Linked DNA regions of Homo sapiens: region 2 is linked to region 1. Evidence: fine-mapped expression QTL. A gene starts in region 1. The other region holds a variant in brackets. All regions are shown on one strand. Distances are from middle to middle.

The links.
Region 2: its variant is fine-mapped to the expression of HENMT1 in whole blood (INTERVAL, PIP 0.99).

The regions. Positions count from the first base shown.
Region 1 is chr1:108,657,836-108,666,174 of GRCh38, forward strand. HENMT1 (HEN methyltransferase 1) reads right to left here and starts at 3,258. Exons shown (of 8, transcript NM_001102592.2): 1 at 3,128-3,258; 2 at 2,029-2,127. The coding sequence starts at 2,049. LOC105378890 (a long non-coding RNA gene) reads left to right here and starts at 6,432. Exons shown (of 2, transcript XR_947679.3): 1 at 6,432-7,134; 2 at 7,915-8,339. RefSeq lists enhancers at 2,977-3,566, 3,567-4,155 and a silencer at 3,222-3,391.
Region 2 is chr1:108,614,241-108,622,579 of GRCh38, forward strand. It overlaps EEIG2 (EEIG family member 2), which reads left to right. Exons shown (of 11, transcript NM_001010883.3): 5 at 2,142-2,188. Among named protein-coding and RNA genes, the nearest start is that of HENMT1, 43 kb to the right of the region's middle. The variant C/CA (reference allele first, on the strand shown) is at 4,596.

The DNA of each region.
Region 1 (8,339 bases):
TTACCAATGAATGTATTCAATGAAAACAATTAGATGACTCCTAACCATAAGGGACCTTTTGTGGAGTGAGTCGCCAAAGCCTGTGGTCCAAGTAGGCAGGAGGCTGGAAAATATTTATAATGACTGACTATATATATATACACACACACATATATATACACACACACACACACATATATGTACACACACTTACACACACACACATATATATACACACACACACACATATATATGTACACACACACACACACACACACACATATATACACACACACACACACACATATATATATATATATTTTTTTTTTCCCCCCAAGACGGAGTCTTGCTCTGTCACCCAGGCTGGAGTGCAGTGGCGCGATCTCAGCTCACTGCAACCTCCGCCTCCCTCAATTCAAGCAATTCTCCTGCCTCAGCCTCCCGAGTAGCTGGGATTACATTACAGGCATGCGCCACCATGCCTGGCTAATTTTTGTATTTAGTAGTGACGGGTTTCACCATGTTGGCCAGGCTCTTCTTGAACTCCTGACCTCGTGATCCACCCGCCTTGGCCTCCCAAAGTGCTGGGATTACAGGTGTAAGCCACCACACCCAGCCAACACTCTTTTTAAGAGAGAGAGAGGATCTCACTATGTCGCCCAGGCTGGTTTAAAATTCCTGGGCTCAAGCAATCCTCTGGCCTCGGCCTCCTGAGTAGTTGGGCATCTGTAGGAACATTCCAACACACCAGCAAAAGACTCTCTCACTGACCAAACTTCAGTCAGGTTCCTCTGAGCCATCTTCTTGAATAGACCTCAAACCCTGGCCCCAATCCTATCTTTGGGCTGCCTAGCCCAGTTTTAATAAGAATACTTCTAAGTCAGTTTAGACAGAATCTTCTACCCCTGATATCTGATCACCCTATCTGGTCAAATTCTTCATCTTTGCAATGTTCTTATTGCAACAGTCCTCAATAAAGTCAGACTAATTTTTTCTTTAACATGACCCCAAGAAAAAACAGAATTTATAAGATTAATCTGTAATAGCTGTTACTATTCCTATACAGCAGTATTATAAAAGTAGTCCAAAGGGTATTTGATATCTGATGTAGCACTGTCCAATAGATAAAATACAAGTAGGCAACTTTCTTGTAGCCCAAGAATTGGAATTATAATCGGAATTAGAATATTTAAACCAATATATCGAAAATATAATTTTTACATAAAATCAATATAAGAGATTTTAGATTCTTGTTTTTCACATTAAGTCTTCAAAATCCAGTGTGCTACATATTTTGTACTTCTGCGTCTCAGTTCCAAAACCTTCATCAGAAATACTTGTCTGTATTGGATTTAAAAACTTTACATTTAAAATATACATGCACATACCCAAGTTATTCCAAACATACTTTTTTCCAATAATGTAATCAAATATCCAATTTTAAACTTAAAATTAAAAATGAAGTTATGAGCCCAGGTGGTCAGCGTTGCAGTTAACCGTGACTGGGCAAGTGCATTCCAGCCTGGGCAACAGAGCAAGACCCTGTCTTAAAAAAAAAAAAAATTAAAGTTCGGTTCCTCAATTCCACTAGCCACATTTCAAGTGCCCACTTGCCATGTGTAGCTACTGGACAGCAGGGAGCTACACCCTAGGTACTCCCAATGTGGTTTCCAAACCAGTGGCATCTTCACCTAGAAACTTTAGAAACACAAAAGCTTGGGCCTCACCCTAGACCTCCTTAAACAGAATCTGCAACTTAACAAAATCCCCAGGTGATCCATATACACAACCACATTGGGGAACACTACTTAGAGTGTTTTTAAAATAGATTTTGCTACTTTAACACCTAGTGATAAAAGTAAAAACATTTATTTTACTTACATACACCAAATGTGACTCTTTCATCTATGTATACCCTTGTTTACCTCAACCAACACCCCGGGAAATGCTAGGACCTAAATGTGATCAATTTTGTTTGCAATTATCTCACAATACATCCAGGTGATAATTCTTAAGAGTCAAAGACGCAGCTAAGAAGGGTGGCATTACCTGTAGATTATTTTCTTCCATTTTGTTTCGAAGTTTTGTTGAAACAAAAATGAAGATTTATCCTTCAAGCTCTATTTGAGAGAATCAGCACTGACTCAGCTGTAATAAATACAAAACCGTTTTTGTAAAGCGATACCTGAAAGAAATAGCTGCCTAGTTCAGAAGGGAAGAACGAAAGCCTCTTTCTTACTCCTTACTACAGTATATAATTTAAATAGAACGCTTAAAAGTAAATAATGAATTCACCTCTGAGTACTCAAAAAAAAAAAAAAAAACACGAAAGCAGGACTCGAACAGATATTTATACACCGAAGTTCATAGCATTATTCACAATAGCCAATCTGTGGATTAAATGTGGACTACCATTTAATCCACAGAATGTATCCAGTATTTTTTCAGACATTCGCAAACAGGCTCAGAAAGCGTAACTTTTCACTACGTCAAACCCTACTAAGAGCGAAAACAGCCATCCTTTCCCTTTACTATCATGAATAGTTCAACTAGATACAAACGGAGCAATCTTAGGAGTTCTGCCCATTTCATTGCTAAGACCCTCAACTTCAAATTTTTTCAAAAATTTTTCCACACATCGTCAAAATGAAATTTCGAGGGGGAAAAAAAGTGTCCTTGATAAACTAGAGATGCTCCAACATCTATTCAATTCACTCACGAACTTGAATTTAAATTTTAGTTCTCTATTGCACATGTGTCTCCAACAACTAGACTTTAATCTGGAATCTAGGCAACATGTTAGTCACCAACTTGTATTAAGAAACCCTGGCCGGGCGCGGTGGCTCACGCCTGTAATCCCAGCACTTTGGGAGGCCGAGGCGGGCGGATCACGAGGTCAGGAGATCGAGACCATCCCGGCTAAAACGGTGAAACCCCGTCTCTACTAAAAATACAAAAAATTAGCCGGGCGTAGTGGCGGGCGCCTGTAGTCCCAGCTACTTGGGAGGCTGAGGCAGGAGAATGGCATGAACCCGGGAGGCGGAGCTTGCAGTGAGCCGAGATCCCGCCACTGCACTCCAGCCTGGGCGACAGAGCGAGACTCCGTCTCAAAAAAAAAAAAAGAAAAAGAAAAAGAAACCCTGCTCACTGAAACCAACGCTTCTGTCTTTGTACGGGCCGTCGCTTCCATCATCCTGCGGTAAGCAGCATGCCCAACCGAAAAAACAAAGCTCGTCGCGGAGCCGCCAGCGTCCTCAACTCAGCGCCGCCCTGACGCCCGCGCACGCACGGCCTCGCTGCGTGACGCTACCGCCGCGGCTACGCCGGCGCCCGCACCCGCGCCTCGGCCTCCCCGCGGGGCTCGCCAACCTCGTGCGCTCTCACGGTCGGCCTTGGGCCCCGGGAGCCTCATGGTGCGCCGAGCTCCGTCCCTCTAGGCTCTCAGTTCCAAGGCGTCGGTTTTGCGTCTCGTAACGGCCGCTGTGGCGCATGCCCAGAAGCCATTTTCAAGGTCCTCTTCCGAACCTTGGCGAGGACCCCTGCGCCTGCCGCGCCGTTGACCCCGCTAGCGTGCGGCTGCGACGCGGCACGGTACGGCAGCTGTTGGCGAAGGCCCCCAACTCCGAGCGCGTCCGCAGACCGCGAGCCGGAAGGCGGCTTGGGCGGCTGTTGAGTTCGTGGCGCTCCCGAGGCGTGGCAAAGGCCTAAAAACGGTCCTGGCCAGCGGAAGGCGGCAAGAGGAGCAGCAAGGCTCCACGCGAGGCGGCCGGCGGCTGGAGTCCCAGTCAGCCTCCGCTTTCATCCCAGAGCAGTCCACGGGGGCCTTAAAGGAATGTAGGCTGGGTGAAGTTGGCCCAGTGACACCTGCGTTCAGAAAAACGTTCTTTCCGCTCCCAACGCCCCCTCTCCACCGCCACCCGACCCCCGAAATAGTTTTCCCCGAGTGTTGTGGATAGAACTGTTGATCTCTTGGAAAAGTTATTGTATCCTGCCATCCTTCCCTCTGGAGACTCCACTTAATATATATAAGTACTTTCTTTCCTGTATATGATGGAAGAGTATTAGGGGGGTGAGGGGAGGGACGAAGCTGCCTTCTTTAGGGAAAAAAGATTGACTTATATTTTGAAAGATGCAAAAGCTGGTGTTTTTGCTACTGAATTAATAGCCTATTAATATGCCACAAATGATATATTGGAACTGTATTTTCAAACATTTAACGCCTGCTGTATGCAAAGCACTATGCTGACAGCTTAAGGGTACCACAATGATAAATTACACCAATCTTGTTTTTGGCATTTTGGGGAGTCTAGTGTCATAGGTAAAGAAGTACATAACTAACAATAAGCTTCAAAAATTCAATCATAAGGCCCGGCACCGTGGCTTCCGCCTGTAATCCCAGCACTTTGGGGGATCACTTGAGCCCCGGAGTGTGAGACCCCGTCTCTACCAAAAAAAAAAAGAAATTAGCTGGGCATGGTGGTGCCTGCCTGTGGTCCCAACTGTTTGGGAGGCTGAGGCCGGAGGATCACTTGACCCCAGGAATCTGAGCCTGCAGTGAGCTATGATTGCACCACTGCACTCCAGTCTGGGCGACAGAACCAGACCATGTCTAAAAAGAAAAAACACTCAGTGATAATTTCACATTACAGTTTGAGAGGTTCCTGTTGACTTGGGGAAACTAGTTTTAGCAGACTTCATTAAAGGAGTGTACACCTTACTACAGGATGTAATTTAAAATAGAATGTTTAAATAATAAATTCACTTCTGGGTATATACTCAAAGCAGGAATTCAAACAGGTATTTGTACACCAAAGTTCGTAACAGCATTATTCACAGTAGCCAAAATGTGGAAACAACCCAAATGTCCATTAAAGGATGAATAAACAAAATGTGATATACATACAATGGAATATTCAGCCTTTATTTTTCCAATCAGAGTTTCAGGAAAATCAACCTTTAAAAGGAGTGAAATTCTGACATTTGCTGCCACATGGATGAATCTTGATGATGATATGCTGAGTGATATATAATCAGTCACGGAAGGACAAATACTGCATGATTCAATTTATATCAGGTACCTAGAGTAGCCAAATTCATAGAGACAAAGTAGAATGGTGGTTGCTACGGGCTGAGAGGAGGAGGGAATTGAGAGTTGTTTAATGGGTGATGGAAAAGTTTTGTAGATAGGATGGTTGCACTGAATGCCACTGAACTTAAAAATTGTTAAAGTGGTTTTATGTATATTTACCACAGTTTCAAAAATTTTAAGGAAAACATAAAAGCTATCATCTATACAGCATTCCTGGATCTAGGGTTTTTGCCTCCCCTGCTGGTTAGCCCATTTATGAACTTGAGCTCCTCATGTCCATTCCCTCTCCAAATTTGCCTATTTCATCATTCTCCTGGCCTCCTACTCTTATTAGAGTCTGAAAAATCATCCTTGGCTCTGTCCATTTTTGTCCTTCCCACACTTGGACAATCACCAAATTTTGACTTCTTCAAGCTGTCATCTACCATCTGTTCCTTCCCACAGCTAATAGCTTAGCCTTGTCATCTCATTTTGTCATTATAACTCATCTTTCCTTCGTACACAAGGTAAGTCCTACTGAGTTATAGACCATGTAACGTCTTTTAGAGTGGATTTTAAGTCAAATAGGCCTTAAATCCAGATTTTACTATTACTGCATAACCTTTGGAAGTTGCATCCTCTCTGAGTGTTAGGGGGTTTTTTTAAGTTAAAAAATGAGAAATGATTACTTATTTGGTAAATGTGTATAGAGTATTTATTATGGATCAAGTACTTGTTTGAATTTAAAAGACAGATAAAGATCCTTTCATAGCTTTTACAGTCCAGCAGGTGTAGGTGTCTGGCACACAATAGGTAATCAAGAGTTATCCTGGGCTGAGTGAGGTGGCTCATGACTGTAATCCCAGCAGTTTGGGAGGCTGAGGCAGGAGGATGGCTTGAGGCTAGGAGTTCAAAACCAGCCTGGGCAACATAGCGAGACCTGTCTCTACAAAGAAAAAAAACATTATCTGGCCATGCTGGCGGGCACCTGTACTCCTAGGTACTCAGGAGGCTGAGGCAGGAGGATCGCTTGAGCCTGGGAGTTTGAGGCTGCAGTGAGCTGTGATCATGTCACTGCACTCCCTGGGCAACAGAGTGAGACCCTGTCTAACAAAAAATTAATTTCAAAATTTAAAATATTTTTTAATATTTTAAAACGGAGTCTGGTTCTGTCACCCAGGCTGGAGTGCAGTGGCGTGATCTCGGCTCACTGCAACCTCCACTTCCCAGGTTCAAGCGATTCTCCTGCCTCAGCCTCATGAGCAGCTGGGATTACAGTCACGCACCACCATGCCCAGCTAATTTTTGTATTTTTAGTAGAGACAGGGTTTCACTATGTTGGCCAGGCTGGTCTCGAACTCCTGACCGCAAGTGATCTGCCCGCCTCAGCCTCCCAAAGTGCTGGGATTCCAGGCGTGAGCCATCGCGCCTGACAAAATTTTTTAAGTTATTCTGGATGCCAGTTTGAGCCTGATGCTTAACAGGATGGAATATTTGGAGGTCTTGAGAAGAGGGTGATTGTATATTCCATGTAAGAGGAATGTAAATAGTTTGTGTCTAGAAGGAAGATTGTAACAGATTAAGATGTACGAATTCCTTCTCACCTATTGAGAGAAACGGGGTCTATTTCTTTTCCTTTTGAATCTATATGGGTTTTGTGATTTCACCAATGAATAGAATACCTCTGCCAGTTTTTGGGCCTAGGACTTAAGAAACTGGCAGCTTCTACTTCCTGTTTTTTAACGCATCCACTCTTGGAACCCAAATGACAATCTGCGAAGAAGACTAAGGGGCCCCACGGAGAGGCCCACATGGAGAAAACTCAATCCCCCCTCACCCGCTATCCCAGGCTGTCAGCCAGCACCACCTTGTCTTGCCAGCCATGTGAGTGAGCCATGTTGGAAGTGAATCCTCCAGGCCCGGTGAGCCATTTAAACTGACTGAAGACAGCAGCTCTGTCCATGTGCACAGAGAGTGGGAAGTGCCTGAAAATTTACATTTTCCTAGGTAGTGCTTTGCTAATGACTGACCGGTGTGGATGTATAAAAGTCCAGCTCCGTGATCTCAGACTTCCGGCCTCCAGAACTGTAAGAAAATAATTTTTTGTTGTTTAAGCCATCCAGTCTGTGGTATTTTGTTACAGCTACCCAAGCTGACTGATAACACTGAATTATGTACATAACTGAATAACCACCTATGGAGCAATAAGAGCACATTTGGAGCATCTTCTCTACCAAGCAAGAAACAAAAACGTTCTCACCTTATCAATATTCTACAAGTTAACCTCTAACTTCTCAGGGTTGTTAACTGTTTGGACTCTCTTGTTTGTAGGGAGTGACTCAGAGAAAGTTAGAGTCCCCAAGAGAGCCATATGCCTGAGAGACAGGCTTAATTCTCTGGCATGTTACTAAAATGTCAGCCATGTGCAGTGGCTCATGCCTGTAATCCCAGCTCTTTGGGAAGCTGAGGCAGGAGGATTGCTTGAGGCCAGGAGTTTGAGACTAGCCTGGGAACGGCCCTTGTCTCCAAAATTAAAAATAAATTTTTTTTAGAAAATGTTAAATACTGTGAAATAATCTATTTCCAAGTGTTGGATATTTTTTCTGCACAGTAGTGAAATTATTGCTGGCTGTCTCGGTGTAAGAATGGCCATTGAGCTGCCTCATATCCTGATGGGAAGGTGCAGGGCCAGAAGTTGAATCACACTATGAGTGTGTTTTATGGGCCAGCTGTGAACCTATGAAAGTAGCAAAGAAGAAATAAGATTTGAAAAGCATGATTCCAAAAGAGTCTGGAAAATTCTTCCAGTTGTCAGACATGCAAAGTTGTAATTTCATATCCATAATTCTTTATGCTTTTTCTTATAGCAGGCCCTGACATTGTATAAGCTTCAGGCCCCACAAAACCTGGATCTGCCCTGCCAGGATCAGCATCTAGAGGAAAACTACTACTTCCACAATAGCACAACCAATCTGATCATCCCTGCATCAGTGAGCATTCTCCAGAGAAACAGAGCCAACAGGATATGTGTATATATGTGAAGAAAGACTTATTTTAAGGAGTTGGCTCATGCAATTATGGAGGTGCAAGTCCAAAATCTGTAGGGCAGGCAGATGGGCAGACTGGAGACCCAGAGAAGAGTTGCAGTTCAAGTCCAAAGTCGGTTGGAAGAATTCCCTCTTGCTGGGTAACACTGGGGAAGCAGGAGTAGATGGAAAGGGGAGGTGTCAGGCTTTGCTCTACCAAGGACTTCAACTGATTGGATGAGGCCCAGTAACATTATGGAGGGAAA
Region 2 (8,339 bases), 44 kb before region 1:
CTCTGTCCCTGTCTCCCTGCATTGTCTGAATAATCCCCAACTTTTGTTAACTCACTTATTAAATATCTACCCTTGCATGCTGAGCATTGCTGAAGAGAATCACACAACCAGACTAGCTGCCATTACTAAAGCCATGCTCACTGCCATCTGGCAGTCATACTCTACTTCCTTCATATGCTTCCTTTCTCAATTTTAGATATTCTGTCTCATACCTTTTTTCTCCTCGTATCCCAACACATTATTCTTGCTCTCAGATACTGACCTTGCCTTATCCTATTGAGAAAACAGAAGCCATTAAACTCAAATTCCCTCATCTTCCCATCATAGACTTTACCTGCCTCTCCCGCCTTATCCTTTTTGTCTCCTGTTACAATGGATGGCATGTCCCCTCTCCTGTCAGAAGTCAGTCCTTCCTCTTGGCTTCTGGAATCCAAAGTTTGCCTAATCAAGAGCTTTACCCCTTAGACTATCCCCTCTTCTCATCATCTCTACCTCGAATGAATCATCCTCATCAACATATAAAGAAACAGCTCCACTGTTTCCCATATTTATAAAGAAAGACAAAAATTAACCTCTCATCTTCTTCAACTACTGTCCCACATCTCTGTTCTACTTAACTATTCAGTTCCTTAAAGCTGTATGTGCCATCTCCATCTCCTTTCTGAGACATCCGTGATATTCAAGAGTGCAGTTTTGATGGAGTTGGAAAGCAGACCTCAGGGTTCTATGAAAGAAGAGATGATGAGGAAATCAGTGCAGCAGGATAGATTTGGCATTTAAAGAGAAAAAAGAGTCATGGAGGTGCTGGGATGAGGAGATAGGAATGAAATAAGGCTATATAAGATACATGTCATCCATTAGCTGCAGAACATACAACAATGTACATATTCTTGTATTCATTAAGACTATGAATTTTGCTATGTGCAGCCCTGGGATCACATCTCAGCTCTGCCCTTTACTAGTTATCTGGTTTTTAAAATATCACTTAATCTCCCTGAGGTTAAAATGAAAATAATTGCTCTCTCCTAGGAATACTGAAAATTAAAGGAAATAATGCATATTAAACACATAGCTTATGCCTGGCACATAATGAATTCTCAAATCATGATTGTTGTTAATGTTGTTGTTACTATTACCATTATCATTATTATTCCCATAAGAACATAAAGAGGTCCTATGACTGACTGTTAAAGGTAGTCAGCAACTAGAGAATAGCAGCATCTTAGAAAGTATTAGAAAAGCTTTAAATCCTGGTTGGGCACAGTGACTCACACCTATAATCCTAGCACTTTGGGAGGCCAAGGGGTAGGATCACTTGAGGCCAGGAGTTCAAGATCAGCTTGGACAACATAAGCAAGACCTCATTTCTGCAAAAAAAAAAGAAAAAGGAAAGAATTAGCCAGGCGTAGTGTGCACCTATAGTCCCAGCTACTCAGAAGGCTGAGACAGGAAGATCATGAGCCCAGGAGTTTAAGACTGCAGTGATCTGTGATAGCACCACTGCACTTCAGCCTGGGTGACAAAGCAAGACCTTATCTCAAGAATTAAAAAAAAAAAAAAAAAAGTTTTAAATTCTGATCTAAAGCTGGAACAAAGGTCAGAAGCTTTTTACTCTTAGAAGCCACCAGCTGGCATCCCTTGAAACATCAACGTGGCAACTTGAAGGAAAACATTACCAGACACTTAGGTACCACAGGAATTTGGGAGTAAAGACAGATAGATTAGCACAGCCACACACCCACAGGATTATTACTGGTAAATTATTATTGCTATTTGTTTCCATTATTTCCATTCAGATTTTTGCAATTTTGAGGTTTTGAATGTTAAAAATGATTTTAATCTATATGGAGCAGTAATTGAATATTGAATATAACCCACTTCTTCTTTTTTTTTTTTTTTTTTTAATAGAGACAGGGTCTTGCTCTGTTGCCTAGGCGGGAGTGCAGTGGCATGACCATAGCTTACTATAACCTCAAACTCCTGGGCTCAAACAATCCTCCTGCCTTAGCCTCCCGTGGATATAACCCAATTCAACAATCATTTTATTTAATGCTTTCCCAATAGAAAATATCGGACTAAGTGCTGTGAAGGAAGCATTTTATAATTTTTTATAATCGTGATATTTCTTGTTTTATATTTAGGTTTTGATCAGTATGCAACTGATGTCTGGTGACCCATGTTTTAAAACGTAAGTTGATACCCAATAAATGGATTATGTATCTAAAAGTATAAGAAAGATTTATTTGTTTAAATTTTTACATTAATATTTTGTAGTGCTTATAAGAAAATACCAGTTAAGGGATAGTTTCTTCCCTGGGAGACTGACCTGACCCTCTTAGAAGTTATGTTTACCTATTACCAAATGAGTTCTCCATACTCCAAATTATTAATGCTATAGGTCTTTCATCATCTTCGGGTTTTGCGTAAAATTATATAAGCAAAAATTTTTAATACGGCTTCTGTGAACATATTCATTTCTTCAATAAACACCTATTAAGTGCCTTACCATGTGTTAGGCCATATTCTAGATACTAGAGAAACAGCTGTGAAAAAAATAGATTAAGTCCCTGCCATCCTGGAGCTTATATTCTAAGAGGAAAATGGACAATAAGCTAACAAGTAAATATATAATATACAAACGGTTCATAAGCGCTTTGGAGAAAAAGGATGGGAGGGCCATCGTGAAGAGAAGTGTTGCTATTCTATATATAGTAGTCAGGGGAGGCCCCCCCCGGTAAAGATGATATTTGAGTAGAGACCTGAAGGAGGTGGGAAGCAAGTCACACTGGCATTAGGGGGAAGAGTATTTGAGGTAGAGGAAACAAGGACAAAGACCTTGAGGGAGAAGTGTTCTTGGCACGTTCAAGTAGCTGCCTGGAGAGCAGCGGGTCTAAAGCAGAGTGAATGAAGAGGCGGGTGATAGGAGATGAGGTCAGATGATAAGGAGTCTTGTGGCCATTATAAAAAGGACTGCCACTCACACTCTGAGTGAGATAGAAAAGCTATTGGAGGTTTTGAGCAGAGGAGTAAAATTATCTGACTTGTGGCTGCTAGATAGGGAATAGACAATCTGTAGGAGTAACAGAGAGGACAGGGACACAAATAAGTAGATAAAAGGCTGTTTTCAGTAATCCAAGGTTTTAAGCCTGAGTAACTGGAAGAATGGTGCTCTCATTTGTTGAGATGAGAAAGACAAGAGGAACAAATTGGGAGCTTGGGTGTTAGACGTTTTAAATTGGAGATCCCTATTTAACATCCAGCGGGGCATGTCAAGTAGGCAATTGGTGGATAGATCAACTAGAGTCCAGTGGGGAGATCTGGGCAGGAGATAGAAGTTTGGAAATTATTACATCATCAGCATACAGGTAGTAATTAAAGCCATGAGACTTGAATAAGTAACTAGAGGGAACGAGTAGAGATGGAAAAGAACCAGAGACTGAGGTGGGGACACCCCAGCGTGTTAGAGGTCGGGGAGATTGGGAAGAAGAATGAGCAAAGAAACCACCAGTGTGATCAGAGGAGGAAAGCAAAGCAGAGTCCTGTCCTGAAAACCAAATGAAGAAACGGCCTCAGAAAGGCAGGAATAAGCACCTGTGTCACACGCTGCTGGAGTGGGTCTCAGAAAATGAGGACTGAGGATTGACCTTTGGAATTTGCAGTATAGAGACTATTGATGACTTTGGCAGGCACTTTGGTAGAATGCCCTTAGACTAAAGCCTTTTGAGCATGGGTTAAAGAGAGTTTGGGAGGAGAAAAATTGGAGACAGTGAGTATAAACAATTCTTATGAGGGGTTTTGCTATAAAAAAGAAACAGAAAGATGGGGTCATAAGTAAAGAGAGGATTTGGAGTAGGGCAGGTTTTATTCATTTTTAAGATGGAAGATGATATAACATATTTGAGTACCAATAGTATTGGCTCAACAAGAGGGAAAAACTGATGATCCAGAAAAGGGACTGTTGCTAGAACAGCGCCCTTGGATTGTTGGAGGGAGGAAGGCAGAGAACATGGCTACTGACGCAGGTAGAGGAGAAATGGAAGCATATAGAAGTTCTTTTCCAGTTGCTTCTGATTTCTTAGTGAAATAGGAAACAAGATGCTCATTGAAGAGCAAGGACAGGGAAGATAGAGGAAGGGGTTTGAAGAAAGGAAAAGGTGTGCAGAAGTCCTCACAGAGAGTGAGCATGAATGGAACAGGGAAATGCAGGATTGCCTGTCAGCAGCCTTGAGGACACTTAATGATTAAAAGTGAAAGTTCATTGATACCATTGAAATATCTGAGAAAAATACACATAGAAAACTAAAGAAAACATTACCTCCCTATGTATCAACTTCATGTTTTTAATAGCTGTAACTTAGAAAGCAACATTTGGCCGGGCTCGGTGGCTCACGCCTGTAATCCCAGTACTTTGGGAGGCCGAGGCAGGAGGATCACTCTACAAAAAATACAAAAATCAGGCGTGGTGATGCACACCTGTGGTTCCAGCTACTTGGGAGGCTAAGGGGAGGATTGCTTGAGCCTGGGAAGTGGAGGTTGCAGTGAGCCAAGATTGCACCACTATACTCCAGCCTGGGTGACAGAGCAAGCCCCTGTCT[C/CA]AAAAAAAAAAAAAAATCAATTCTTGATTAAAACCACACATCTTCCTATAACTTAGCCTTCCTGTGCTGTCTTCTGATAAACCATGGTTTCCTGACTCCTTTATTTTCTGCTTTCTTGGGATTAAACCAATTTTGCTATACTATTTTTGGTGTCTCAGGTAACTGTTTTTCTATTGGAGTAAGATTTAGGGTAAAATAAGAAAATGAGCAGCAAAACTTAGTAGAAGAAAATAAATTGATCGTTCCTTCTCATGAACTTTTTATGGATATTCCCTTTCTTGCCCTTTCTCTTCCCTTTTCTCTCTCTACTTAAACTCACATATTGAAGAGCTTGAAAGTAGATCATCTAATGTTTTATATTATCTCCATAAATTTAATTCTGACAATCTGGAGTTTATATTTACAGAGAAAGACTTTTGTAATTCATAAAAATAAGCAGACATTACCTAATTCCAAATACATAAAATATTTTTCAAGAGAATCAAACCCTCAGTAGTTTTTCTTTTCTCTTTGAAATTGTTCAAATGTCATTGAAAAAGGGGAAATTCTAACACATTCATACACTTGCACATACTGAATATGTACTGAATAGAAAAACATTTTAACTACTGATGTAAAAAGTAAATTAGTTTTATCAAGTTATATTTAAATATATGTCAAATATGTAAAGTCACATTACTTTAGAGCCGAAAAGAATGTTGGAAGTTGTCTAATCCAGTGATTTTTTTAGACTATTTAGCTACAAAATCCTTTGCTCAAATATATTATGAGGCCAAGCATGGTGGCTTATGCCTGTAATCCCACACTTTGGGAGGCCAAGGCAGGTGGGTCACTTGAGTCCAGGAGTTCACGACCAGCCTGGGCAACATGGTGAAACCCTGTCTCTACCAAAAAATAAATTAAAAAATTAGCCAGGCGTGGTGGTGCGCCTGTCGTCCCAGCTACTCAGGAGTCTGAGGTGGGAGGATCCCTTAAGCCCAAGAAGCTGAGGTTGCAGTGAGCCAAGATCATGCCACTGCACTCCAGGCTGGGTGACAGAGCAAGACCTGTTTCAAAAATAAAGCAAATATATTATGAATCCTAGTATATAAAATTTTACTTTATATCCCCTCCAACTTAGGTAAGATAAGAATAGATTTTCCATTGAGCACACTCCCATACCTACTTCCAGAAGTCCCTAAAGGAGATCATGAAACCAGTTTTAAAAGTGTTGGTGTAATCCAAGTTCTCATTGTACAGATGAGGAAACGGAGTAACAGAGCAATTGTGTGACTTTACTCAGTATCTTTGTCCAGAATGAAGATGTAAATAACTGCTGGAGGGCTTCATTCTACCATTGTCTGCTTTTGTCTATCTTTAAATTTTTCATGATATAAATTGTTTTAAATTTACTTGAGAAACAGGAGTATAGCAGATCCTTAGTCTCAAGTTTAAATCCTAGTTTTAATATTTTCTGAGCAGAAGATCTGTGACATAGATTGTATAATTCTTCTGAAGCACCAATTATATACCATAAGGCCAGAATTTATGAAGAAGACAGCTGGTAAGTCAGCCTAACCACCTACCCTAAACTTTATTGCATAGTTCTCTACAACTCATCAAACACCCACCAACTCTTGTAAAAGAATGAAATTCACTCTGAAAAGTGCTAATAAAGAAAAAAGATATTTTGAGAGAGAAAGTGTATACTCTGCTGGCATTTGGGAATGTGGTGGCAAAGCAGATCTAGGGGTGATATAAGTCTCTTGAATAGCAAGGTTCTGACGCGTTCATATTCCAAAAGGAAGGAAATTATCATTTGTGAAAATGATTTCATGAATGTTACTGTCTCTCAATTCTTAAAACTCTGTAATATAAATATTATCCATATTTTTGAGTGAGGACATCGAGACTAAGAGGTTAAGGAATTAATTCTTCCAGGGTCCCAGGATGCAATCATTCATTCGGTACATGTGTATTGATTGCCTGCCACATGCCAAGACTTAACAAGCTAGAAAAGACCAGCCCCTGCTCTGAAGGGATTCACTGATTACGTGGGAGACAGGCACACAGCATACAGTGTCACTGGGGCACACAGGATAGGATCCCTAGCCACAGTTCTTTGAAAGCCAGGGAAATCTTTACTGAGAAGGGGACACTGAGCTAAGTTTAGGGGATGACTAGGAATTTACTAAGCACAGGAGGTAGGTAGGGACACCCCAGGAGAGAAAACTGTGCACAAGTTTATGCCATCGTTACAGGGCATTGAGTATTTAAGAAATGTCAAATAGGTAATGTTGTCGTTTTATGAGGTCATTTTTCACATATTCTTAACATTACTATAAAGCAATCAAATTAAAGTAATCCCATTTCTTTTTCTATACTTGACCCACATTAAGTGATTTCAGATGAGATATAAAAGCATTTTCAGAACAAAAGGGGTAATGGAACAAAAACTGGCACATGGCAAGCACTCAGTGATTATTTATTCAACAAGACTGAGTTGTCCAGGGAGGTAAGAGAGCTGCCAAGCCCCAGCTAAGATTTTGGATTCTAAATTTGCTTTACTATCAGTCCCCATAGTCAGTGAATTTTCTCCATAATGCTTAGTTGCCCCAGTAATAGAGCAGTTAGTATAGATGGCTGATATTATCAAGGGTTGCAGTTCTTCAGCTTTTTTGAGACCGCAGAACAAGGGGTGCCAAATTGAAGGTGTTGCTTAAAGAGTTGTGGCTGTGGAGTCAGGCTGGAAGGGAGAATGGAGCCAGAGGGAAATAGAGAGGGAAGGGGCCAATGTTTGGGAGTTCTGAGGGTTGGAAAACAGGTCTAAGACATAGAGGGGATAGGGACACTGTAATCAGGTCACCTGTGAAAGAAACTGGCATTAAAAAGGTAAGAATTTTTAGACATGCAGGCATGAGTCAGCCATCAGTGATTAATGACTATGACTGTAGGCTCCATTCTTTGTGTTTCTTCTGTGTATTAGTTTTTCCCATGAAATATTTAATGCAGGGTGTTTTTTTTTTTCCACAAAGCTATTTTACATTATTTGAAAATACAGCCCGAGCGTGGTGGCTCACGCCTGTAATCCCAACACTTTGGGAGGCCGAGGTGGATGGATCACCTGAGGCCAGGAATTCAAGACCAGCCTGGCCAACATGGCGAAACCGTGTCTCTACTAAAAATACAAAAATTAGCCAGGCATGGTGACGGGCACCTGTAATCCAAGCTACTCAGGAGGCTGAGGCAGGAGAATCACTTGAACCCGGGAGGCGGAGGCTGCAGTGAGCCGAGAGTGCGCCATTGCACTCCAGCCTGGGAAATGAGCGAAACTCCGTCTCAAAAAAGAAAAAAGAAAGGAGAAAGAAAATACAGCTGTTGGTAATTGAAGAGGCAGGTCTAGGCCAGACTGCAAGTTCTGAGGGATTTGAGTTTTATGCCGAAGGAGCTATGGAGGGGTTTTAAATAAGAGAGTAACATGTTCAGAGGCAAGTTTCAGAAAGACCACAGTGACAGTAGCATGGAGTAGAGATTGGCAGACCAGCAAGGAGACCCTTGCAGTCAGCCAGGAGAAAGGTACAAAGGCCAAAACTCAAGTAATTAGTGGAGATGGAGAAGAGATGATGAATAGGAAAAATACTAAATGAGGATCTGAGATTTGGAAATTGATTGGACATGGGAAAATGTTATTAGGAAGGAGGCAGAGGTGATATCCGTAATTCTAGTTTTGGTGACTTTGTGGATTGCAATGACATTTACAGAGAG